Regions from separate parts of the Homo sapiens genome. Here region 2 is linked to region 1. Evidence: fine-mapped QTL for protein levels in blood plasma. Region 1 holds a variant in brackets. A gene starts in the other region. All regions are shown on their reverse strands.

Region 1 (5,387 bases):
TTGGGAGTGGGGTCAGAGGAGGAAGATGGAGGAAGAGGAACGGTGAGAAGCCCCAAAGTAAGAGAAAGCGTGGGCGGGGAATTCAGGCAATTATAAGTAAGTCACAGAACTAAACTGTAACATTCAAAGGGAAAAGCAAGGGGAGCAGCCTACAGGGCGAGGGGGGCTCCGGCCTCCACACTCACATCCCTTTACCTTATCAAGGGCCTCAGGCTTGGGGCAGAGTTGGGGACTCCAGAACTTCCTGCAGGGGAGGCTTGAGGTGGCATTCTGGCGGGAAGGACTAGCAACTTTTCAATTTGCATTTTCCTCCTTACATTGTATACTTTTTGGAGGAAGGGAAGTTGGAGAGCTGATTTTAATTATAGGGTCCTATACCCAGAAAAACAACTCTAGCCAAAGAATATCTCTGTTGAGTGTTGCATGTAACACGGTGGCTGGGCCCTCGGAAGCTCCGCCCCAAATGTTGGTCACTTAAACCAGCTTCCTTTTCTGAGGCCAGGGGCTTTCACAGGGAAGGTAGAAGCATTCAGACCATGGGATTTTGCAGTGCGTCAGAATTCCTGGAGAGACTGGCCTACAAACCTCTCTGTGCTCAGTAACAGGAACGGGTGATCAACCTGTGGTCTCTTACAAAGGATTGCAACATTGGCAAAAGGAGGCTGTGCCCAGCAAACAACAACCCAAAGTCTGGGGTTGCCTCAGGCCTAAAACTGTCTCAGATGGCTGAGTTTCAGGGGTGGGGCCAAGGCCATGAACTTACACCTAAGGAGGACCTGTTTGTCTCGTTCTGTTGTAAAAACAGGGTGCACATCTAACCCAGACTGGCCTCTTTGCCTCTGCAAGTAAGGGACCTGACTGATAGAGGATGGTTTTTGTGTGTGCACACGAAGCCTAGCATGCAATAGAGGTTATCATGTGAGGCATTTAATGGCTGGGTCCTCACCTGTGTGAGTGTAAAGGAAAGACTGAATGGAAAGAACAGTTGAGCTGCAATGCAGTCATAATGCAAGCCTCAGTCCATTCGCCAGGAGGTAGGGTGGCACTGGCAAGGGAGCCAGGCCTTTATATACCCACACTGAGCAGTCATTGGATGCGGGCTTCACCTGGGGAAAGAATGTGACCTCTTGAGCTATGGGCCATTCTCATGGATAGTCGTGGGGTTGTGAATCTAGGCGGTGTACTACAGTATCCATGCCATTATGTGAACTATCTCAATGAAATTCCACAACAGTATTCAGAATATATTATTATCTTCATTTTACAGACAAATAAACTGAGGCACAGAGCTGTGTGACTCTGAGCCACTTGGCCACCGTAGTGCCTTCTCCATAAATAAACACTAGATATGTAGTCAGGAAATGCCAGTTCAGCAAATCTTAACTTCTCATTTACCCACACACTGTCCCCTAGACAAGTCTTTCAACCTTTTTGAGATTCAGTTTTCCCAGATTTAAAATGAGGATTATAATGCTTGACCTACCTTTTACTTGTCTCATAGAATTGCTGCCAAGATCAATTCAAAACAAGCCCTTATATGCGAATGTGCTTTGTGAACTGCTAATTCCTAGACAAATGTAAGAAACAATGCTTATTACACGTGAAAGGCAGTATGTGGTCAAACAGATGGCAGTGTAGGACCTCTCCAAAACCTCTAAGCCTTTTGGTTACTCCAACTGGCAGAGGCCAAATGCAAACATTTCCATTTGATAAATGGAGAGACAGAAGTAAGTATCAGGGAAGTTGGTAGGCATAACTCATTCCAGAAATTAGTTCTTGGGATCCATGTCCAACACATCGATTTAGTATGGCTCTGATGACACAATGGAAACCAGAGGCAGCCTACCCAAGAGGATATGGACACCCACAGTGGGATAGAAAGGAGTTAACATTTGTTAAACACCCACCTGTGCCAGGCACTATGCCAGGTGCTTTATATAGGTTGCGTTTTTATCCCTTTAAGAATCATAGGCACTTTACCATTGACAAGTCAAAGGTTCAAAGAGAAGGAGTAGTGGTAACTTTTTAAGGATGCAGAGCTAAGAAAGAGCAGTGTCTGGCTTTCTTCAGCACACCTAATTATCTTTGCGCAAGGTGAGGATCCTGCTCCAATGCCTCGGGAGTCATAATTGAGGGGGCACTGGGAGCTACAGAGGCTGGCCAGCATTGAAATCTGTTTCTACCCAGGAATTCAAACTGTGTGAGAGGTGAATGTCTTTGTCTCTTGCAGCAAAACGTACCTCTTTAATTTTGGGATGATCCAAGAACCTGATGTGATTGATCAGAGAAATTTGCAAAACTAGGATAGCTTGGAAAGCTAGGATAGCAAGCCCACAGCACAGAAAAAAAGCTTCTGTGAGGAACAAGGGGCACCAAGAAGAAATATTCCCATAAACCCCAGAATGACAATGGTTTCCTCAAAGGCTTCAGAGTAGGACCTGGGATTTGAGTGTTGGCACTACTGCCGGACCAGAACAGGATTGTGTTTGCCTGTGTACGTGTGCATGTGTGTGAGTGTTCATGCAGTGAATGACATGGAGTCAGATATACCATGGGGACTTTTTTTTCATCTGCAACCACATAAGTCTCCATCCAGATCTATCTAAACACGTTTTGAAGGTGACTGTGGTCCTTTGGTAAAGGCACACCAGTTCTCATCCTGATGGATAATGTGAAGTAGGTCTCCAGGTGAGGTGTGAGGATCAATCAGCAGGAAGCAGAGTCAAGAAGAAACCAAGGCATGGCCCAAATCTTTTTCTCTATGGGGAAATTTCCCCATCTGTAAAATGGGGATGAAGACAGCACCTTGGTCATATGGGTAAAGTTTGTAGTAGGACAATGCAAATATGGTAAGTGCATGTCAGCTGATAGCCATGGCTCTTCCAAAATTTTATATATGCTGAGGTTTTTTTTTTTTTTGCAGTCATAATAGTTTAGAAGTGTCATACATTTGTTGAGAATTAAGTGCTTC[A/G]TCACTATGTTGTGCCTTTCCCCCTTCCTGTTAGTGTTTTCTCAGTGAAATTCTGCTCTGATATAAAAGGGTGAACCCAGCTCTCTTCTAGTTAGTTTGACTGTGTTCTTCCATCCCTTTACTTTCAACTTTTCTGTGTTTAATATTTTAGGACTGTGTCCTGGAAATATCATTGCCAGATTTTAAAATCCAATCTGACAATATGTCTTTCAACTAGGAAGTTTAGTTCATTTTCATTTTTTGTAATCTTTAATGTATTTGGATTTGTTTTACTATCTTAATTTTTTTTTTTTTTTTTTTAGATGGCGTTTCGCTCTTGCTGCCCAGGCTGGAATGCAATGGCACAATCTCTGCTCACCACAACCTCTGCCTCCTGGGTTCAAGCGATTCTCCTGCCTCAGCCTCCAGAGTAGCTGGGATTACAGGCATGCACCCCCACACCCAGCTAATTTTGAATTTTTAGTAGAGATGGGGTTTCCCCATGTTGGTCAGGCTGGTCTCGAACTCCTGACCTCAGGTGATCCACCCATCTTGGCCTCTCAAAGTGCTGGGATTACGGGCATGACTTAATTTTTTATTTTATTTTAGCCCCTTTTCAATGCTTCTTTTTCTCTCTCACCTTATTATTTATTTTGGGTGGGGTGTTGGTGGTTGCTATTGTTTTCTTATTCCATTCCCCTTCCCATATTGATTTAGAAGTTATATACTCTGTTTCTCTTGTTTTAGTGGTTACTATTAAATTTTTGTCATGACTATTTTACTTCTCAGGGTCTAAAATTAATAAATATCTAACCCCCTACCCAAAAAAATATGATTTATGAGTATTTTTAACCTTGATCATCTCCCTCTCAACTTATAGGCTTAACATTTTAATTTGTCTTAACATTTTAGTTCTGCCCTTTTTCTAACCCCACATTTCGACTTATTTTTCAAAGATTTGTTTAGATTATTCTACGTTTCCTGTTTTCTTCCTCACCATTTTTTACTGACATCCAAGGTCCCCTGTGGTAAGCAGAATAATGCCCCTACTCCACCACCCGCAATTCCCACATCCTATTATTCCCTTGGGCCTGTGACTATGTTAGGTTACATGGCAAAAAAGAAATTAAGGTTACAGATGGAATTGAGGTTGCTAATCAGCTAACCTTAAAATAAAGAGATTATCCTGGATTATTTAGGTGGACCCAATCTAATCACAAGGGTCCTTAAAAGTAGAGAAAGGAGGCAGAAGAGGTCAGAGTGATAAGATAAGAGAAGGGAAGGGGAACATCGCACACTGGGGACTGTTGTGGGGTGGGGGAGGGGGGACGGATAGCATTAGGAGATATACCTAATGCTAAATGATGAGTTAATGGGTGCAGCACACCAATGTGGCACATGTATACATATGTAACAAACCTGCACGTTGTGCACATGTACCCTAAAACTTAAAGTATAATAATAATAAAAAAAATTTATAACCCCCCCCAAAAAAAAAAGATAAGAGAAGGACTCGACTGCCACTGTTAGCTTTGAAGATGTGGGAAGAAGCCACTAGCTAAGGAATGCAAATGCCTCTAGAAATTAGAGAAACATCATCTCCAGAGCCTCCAGCAGCCCTGCTGATACCCTGATTTTAGCCCAGTAAGACTTCTGACCAGAAATCAGGAGGTTAAATTTCTGACCTACAGAACTGAAAGATAATTTCGTGTTTTTTAAAGCCACTAAGTTTGCAGTAATTTCTTAGAGCAACTAATAAGAAACTAATATACCAGACTTTAGGGATCATTTTTCTTCCTTTTGAAACATCCTTAGATATTCTTATCAGTTGTAACAACACAAAAGAATAAATGCTTGAGGTGATGAATACACCCAAAAAAAATTTTAAAAAGAAACATCCTTACATATTCGTTTAGGAAGTAATCTCATTCACTGTTTATCCAGAAATGTCTTTATGGTGTACTTCTTGAAAGATTGGTTTGGTTTGGTTTGGTTTGGTTTTGAGGCAGTCTCACTCTGTCACCCAGACTGGAGTGCAGCAGCATGATCTCAGCTCACTGCAACCTCTACCTCCTGGGTTCAAGCGATTCTCCTGCCTCAGCCTCCCAAGTAGCTGGGATTACAGGTGCACACCACCACACATGGCTATTTTTTTTTTTTTTTGTATTTTTAGTAGAGATGGGGTTTCACCATGTTGGCCAGGACGGTCTCAAACTCCTGACCTCAAGTGATCCACGTTCCTTGGCTTCCCAAAGTGCTAGGATTATAGGCGTGAGCCACCACGCCTGGCCAAAAGATATTTTTGATAGGTACACAATTTTATATTAACAGTTAGTTTTTCTCTCACCATTTTCAAGATGTCTTTCAACTGTCTCCTTGCTTTCGTTGTTGTTGAGAAGTCAGCTGTCATTCCACTTGTGAAATAATATCTTTAGCT
Region 2 (5,387 bases), not on the chromosome of region 1:
CGGGTCCTTCAGGAACTATTCCAGAAGAAGGCTTTGTTATCATAGGAGAGGACAGCTCCATGCATGTTACTGCCCTAAAGACCTTCTAGTGGAACAAGAGTGAGGAGGAAGACAGTGATACTGATGATCCTGACCCTCCGTAGGCCGAGGTTAATGTGTGTGTTTGTGTCTGCTTTTAACAAAAAGGTGTAGAAGGTAAATAAATAAATAATTTAAAAGATAAAAATCTTACAGAATAAGGATAGAAAGAAAAAATATTTTGTACATCTATACAAGGTGTGTTTTAAGCTAAAACAAAAGAGTTACAAGTTAAAAGATTTTCAGTTGATAAAGTAGAAAGCTTATCATAAATTAATTTATTATTGAAGAAAAGTTTTAAAAATAAATTTAGTCTATCCTGGGTGCACCAGAAGCTCAGTAATTAGCACTAAAGAACTTATCCATGTAACCAAAAACCACCTGCTCCCCCCAAAATATTGAAATAAATATATAAATAAAATAAATTTACCTAGCTCAAGTATTCAGTGTTCATGAAGTTTACAGTAGTGTATGGTAATGTGCTAAGCCTTCATATTTGCACACCACTCACTCAGTGACTTACCCAGAACAACTTTCAGTCCTGCAAACCCTATTGACGGTAAGAGCCCTATACAAGTCTGCCATTCTTAATATTTTATATTGTATTTTTATTGTACCTTTTATATGTTTAGGTAAACACATTCTTACATTTGTGCTACAGTTGCCCACAGTATTCAGTACAGTAACATGCTGTACAGGTTTGCAGTCTAGGAGTGACAGGCCGTATAGCTTAGTTAGGTAGTAGGCTATACAATCTAGGTTTGTGTAAGTACACTCTATGATGTTTGCAGGAGGACGAAATTGCCTATAGACACACTTCTCAGAACGTTTTCCTATCATTAAGTGATGTATGAGTGTACACACACACACACACACACACACACACACAGACAATTACCTATATATAAAACCTTGCAATTTATTTGCCTATTTACATTTTGCTTTTCTTTTAGGACACTCTAAGTAGTAGTGAGGGGTGGGTGGCGTTGTCATATTCTTTCCAGCTTCTTTGCTACAGCATGAAGCACAATATATTGCTTGATTCATGTTTTGCTACTGGAAGCATGCAGTTTTCTATTTGTACAAAAGTGTTGCTTTCGTCTGTTATTTCTGCTGTTTGGCCAGTTTCTAAATAGACACCAAAACAAAAGTGTAATGCACACTTACAGGTCATTTAACACCTAGACAACTTTTAATAGAATTTCACTAAAGTTTATCCTGGGACTGGACTGAAGCTTGAAAGTTTTGTGGGGTTAGGAATTGTCAAAATTCTACATATTATCCTCATAATTTTCACTTATCTTCCTCTGCTTCCACCCCCCTTTAGAAATCCTTGTGTAATGCCATTTGTAACAGATGTTTAAGCCACTTAATAAATATCATAAACACAGACTTAAGAAAAATCAAATACACTCATGCAATCGCACTCTTGTGATTATAGCTCAGTACTAAAAGTGAAAACAAAATAAAATGAATTTTAGGCCCATAGAAATAATGTTTTGCAACATTTGTAAGGGCATATCTTAAAAAGAAAGCATTTTATGGTTCATATTTTTCTCTTATGTCAGGACTGAGAAGAAAGTGTTCAAAAAATTTAAAGATCTGTAAACATTAGAAAGCAGTAAAGCAGTAAAATAAAAACTTTCTGGAAATCAAAGAGTATATAGCACAATGATTGAAACTTCACGTACACACATAGTTTAATCAGTATCCTAGACCTTGTTAGAGATTTTGTTTGCAATCCTTTTGATATAGTGGCTTTAATTTCCACATGAAATAAAATGGGATAGTTTATAATGTTATAAGAATCAGTTTATAGTATTAATAAAGAAGTGATATATTATTTCACTTTTGAAATTTGTGGAAGAGCTCAGAAGAAACAATTTTTTGGCAGTTCACTGGTTTATATATAAAAATAATATTTTCTATTGTTTCATTAAAATATATTTCCCTGTTGAATGATAATTAGGCTGAAATGAGAATTCCTTCATTTTAATAACATTTAAAATGTAAATTATCAAATCTATGAAAATAAAATTCTCAAAACATAATGAAGGTGGCCAAATCTTTTGGGGTTGATTTTTCTAGTCAGTGGCATTGCAGAGTTTATGCAGAATTACACTAATATTTCACCTTGTCATCTTTATTATAGCAGATTTTCTCTCCTTTGATTTCTCTTTACATTATCTATTTGGTGACCATTTACCCTTAGCAAACTAGAGAACGGAGAGAATTAATTTCATTCAATTTTCCTGCTAATTGCATGTTGGAAAATATTTCCAGAAAATAGATGAATATTGTGATACCCCTTCAAATTATCCTCAGCTATTTATTCATTTAAAAATATTTGTATGCATACACACACACAATCAATAAATACATTTGAAAAGGAACTAAAATATTCGGATCTGTTTTCAACTTACCTTCTCCCCCAACAGTGGATACCCATGAGATTAGGATTACACTGAATAAGAGCAACATGCTTGGTAGTCTCAATCGTATATAACTAAAAATACTCCAGTGATGGTGGTGTTGCTTTAAATCTGCTTTCATTAACAGTTACAAGCATGACTTTGAATTTCAATGTACTAAGGGGAAGCTAGTTTAGTAAAGCCCTTTGTGGAAAACATCAAAGTTCATGGAGGGTTGTGTGAAATAAGCAAATAGTATCTAATCAGTGTCTTCACAATAATATTCTCAGCTCGTTATGTAATATTTATTTAAGCAAAATAACTGCTGTTCAATTTCCTTGTTGTAGTCACCGAGTCTCTGAGTTTGGAACAATCAGAAATGGACTGTTTAGAGGAGAGAGGAAGCTCCCCACCGCCGGCCCCCTGGGTTTTTTTTTTTTTTCTAGCCAAGGGTTCAGCTGTTTCAAAAGGCAAGCAAGTGCAAGTCATCAGTCCTCATCTTAATACAACAATATCACTTTTGTAGTTGTAAATTCCCTTTTAAAACTGGCACTAAGAATTAGGTACCTTCTTAACAGTTTTAATATTTCATAAACTATAAAAGGTCTAATCAAGAATTATTTTTGCTGGCCGGGCGCAATGGCTCAAGCCTGTAATCCCAGCACTTTGGGAGGCCGAGGCGGGTGGATCACAAGGTCAGGAGATCGAGACCATCCTGGCTAACACGGTGAAACCCGTCTCTACTGAAAAATACAAAAAAAATTTAGCCAGGCGTGGTGGCGGGCGCCTGTAGTCCCAGCTACTCGGGAGGCTGAGGCAGGAGAATGGCGTAAAACCGGGAGGCAGAGCTTGCCGTGAGTGGAGATCGCGCCACTGCACTCCAGCCTGGGCGACAGAGCGAGACTCTGTCTCAAAAAAAAAAAAAAAAAAAAAAAGAATAATTTTTGCCAAGTAACGTTTCCTGAAATGTTTGAAGAACAGAATTATAATTCAAAATCATTTTGTTCAGGTGGGACTTCGAGAATGGCTATGTGAGGGTCTTGGTATATTCACTCCCAACCAAAAGGCAGCAATAAAACTGGATAAAAATTTAAAAGTAACCATTGGTTGTCTCTGGAAATTGGCCAAACAGCATAATGTTGGGAAATATTTTTTCCAGAAAGTCTCCATAAAATTCAGTAAAAGAGAGCGGATGCTTTCATCCACCTCTGTCTCGCAGCCCAATTCCGTGGCTCAGAAGTTGAACCCTGGATGGGCAGGCAGGCTATGTGGACTGGAAGCTCTGCTCCCCTGCTGGAGAAGAGTGACTTTATAGCTTGGAAAGGTCCATGCCCGAGGATCCTATTGAATACAAAGAGATTACAGTGGGAAACAATCAGAGAAGACTAGAGGATACTAGCTGAAGCAAGCAACAAAGTGCCCAGCCTGAGAGAAATTTAACATTTAATGGGGAAATTTACAGAAACAGCCTAATGATCTCACTAAGAGGAAACTTACTTATGGTGGTTCAGAAGTCAATGGGAATGCACATAGCTATGTCCAATCAAGAAACCAGAGAAGTCCCTGTGAGCTATTAGTAGTCTCCACTATTGATTCTAGTCTATCTAAACCTTGTCATTTCCAATTACTACACTACCTAAAGTATCTAAATATTAAGCATCACACTCTAGACCATTTCAACAATCTTTTTAGCTCACTTACTCTACTAAATTTGTTCCAAACATTCAATGACCCTGACACTTTTTCACTATTCTCTTCCCTTCATTTTCTCTCTTCCCACCACATCTAAATTAGATTCCATGGCTCATCACTGTCAGTCAGTCCCTTGCACACACTCTCCTGCCCATTCGTTCCTTTCTATCTGTAATCCAAGTCTTAGAAAACCTCAATCCTTTGCAAATAAATTCTCTACCTGCCCTGTGCCTGAATTGAAGCAGCAGAGTGTGTCTACAAGAAAAACAAAGGCAACTGTGCTGACTTGCCTTGCTTTAAATTAATGAACACGGTCCTAAATAATTTCCACACTGCTTTTCCCCTCTCCTGTTTTCATTATCTCCCTCCTTAACCACCAATCCTCACTTTGTGCTTTGCTAATGACTTCATTTATTTTTTCATCTAGATATAGAATCAATCAGAAGAAAACTACCTGCTGTTCACACGCATCCTTTTCTGCATTGTCTCTTGCTTCACTGGATGTTGATCTTTACTCCTATCTTGTTATGGTCTCTACCAGATTTGATCCCATCTTTTCTGTGCAAGGATTTTGCTCTTTCAATTATTCCTTCTCACCTGTATCATTAATTTCTCCATTTTCCAAATTATTTCCACCAATATGCAAACATACCAAACATCTTTCATCATGAAGAGCAACAACAAAAGCTCAAAAATTGTTCATAGAACCCAAATCTCTTTCTAGTAATCTAATTCACTTCTCATTTTATAATACGATGACTCCAATGTTATCTACAATCTCTACTTTAATTCATTTTTTCATTCCCAACACTACGCTTAAACCCCTCTTGTAACAGTCACCAATGCCTTCTTCAATCTAATCAAATCCATTGGTCAAAACTGAATACTCAGAAAAATTTCATGACTTTCCCCTTCCATTTGGAAATACCTGCTTCACATGGTCTATGGAACACCACATTCTCCTGGTTTCTCTTCTGTCTCAAAGGCTTCACCATCTCAGTCTTTTGTTGGCTTCTTCTAATCTCTGTGACCTTTAAACATTGGTTTGTCTGAATCCAGGGGATGTTATTTATTTGTAAGCACAGAGTTAATTTTCACAGAGCTAGTGCCGATTTTTAGTTGAATTAACACTATCTTCTCTTGTCTATTTTTTTTGAAGCCCAGTACTCAACAATTATTCTCCTTTTTATTTGCTGAATATTTCTC

Which allele goes with the higher level. Alleles are on the strand shown, and positions count from the first base shown. The strength of an association depends on the size of the effect and on how common the allele is.
With allele G in place of A in region 1, the plasma level of the protein whose gene starts at base 2,668 in region 2 is higher (weak association).

Evidence for each region. PIP is the posterior inclusion probability: the model's chance that the variant is causal. The UK Biobank Pharma Proteomics Project read protein levels with antibody pairs (Olink). The fine-mapping took linkage between variants from a reference panel, not from the people measured, so its PIPs are less certain.
Region 2: it holds the start of CFHR5, and the variant in region 1 is fine-mapped to the plasma level of the CFHR5 protein (UK Biobank, PIP 0.97).

Annotation. Positions count from the first base shown.
Region 1 is chr2:113,107,296-113,112,682 of GRCh38, reverse strand. It overlaps a transcript of IL1RN not described here. Among named protein-coding and RNA genes, the nearest start is that of IL1RN, 18 kb to the left of the region's middle. The variant A/G (reference allele first, on the strand shown) is at 2,972.
Region 2 is chr1:196,974,837-196,980,223 of GRCh38, reverse strand. CFHR5 (complement factor H related 5) reads right to left here and starts at 2,668. Exons shown (of 10, transcript NM_030787.4): 1 at 2,502-2,668. The coding sequence starts at 2,559.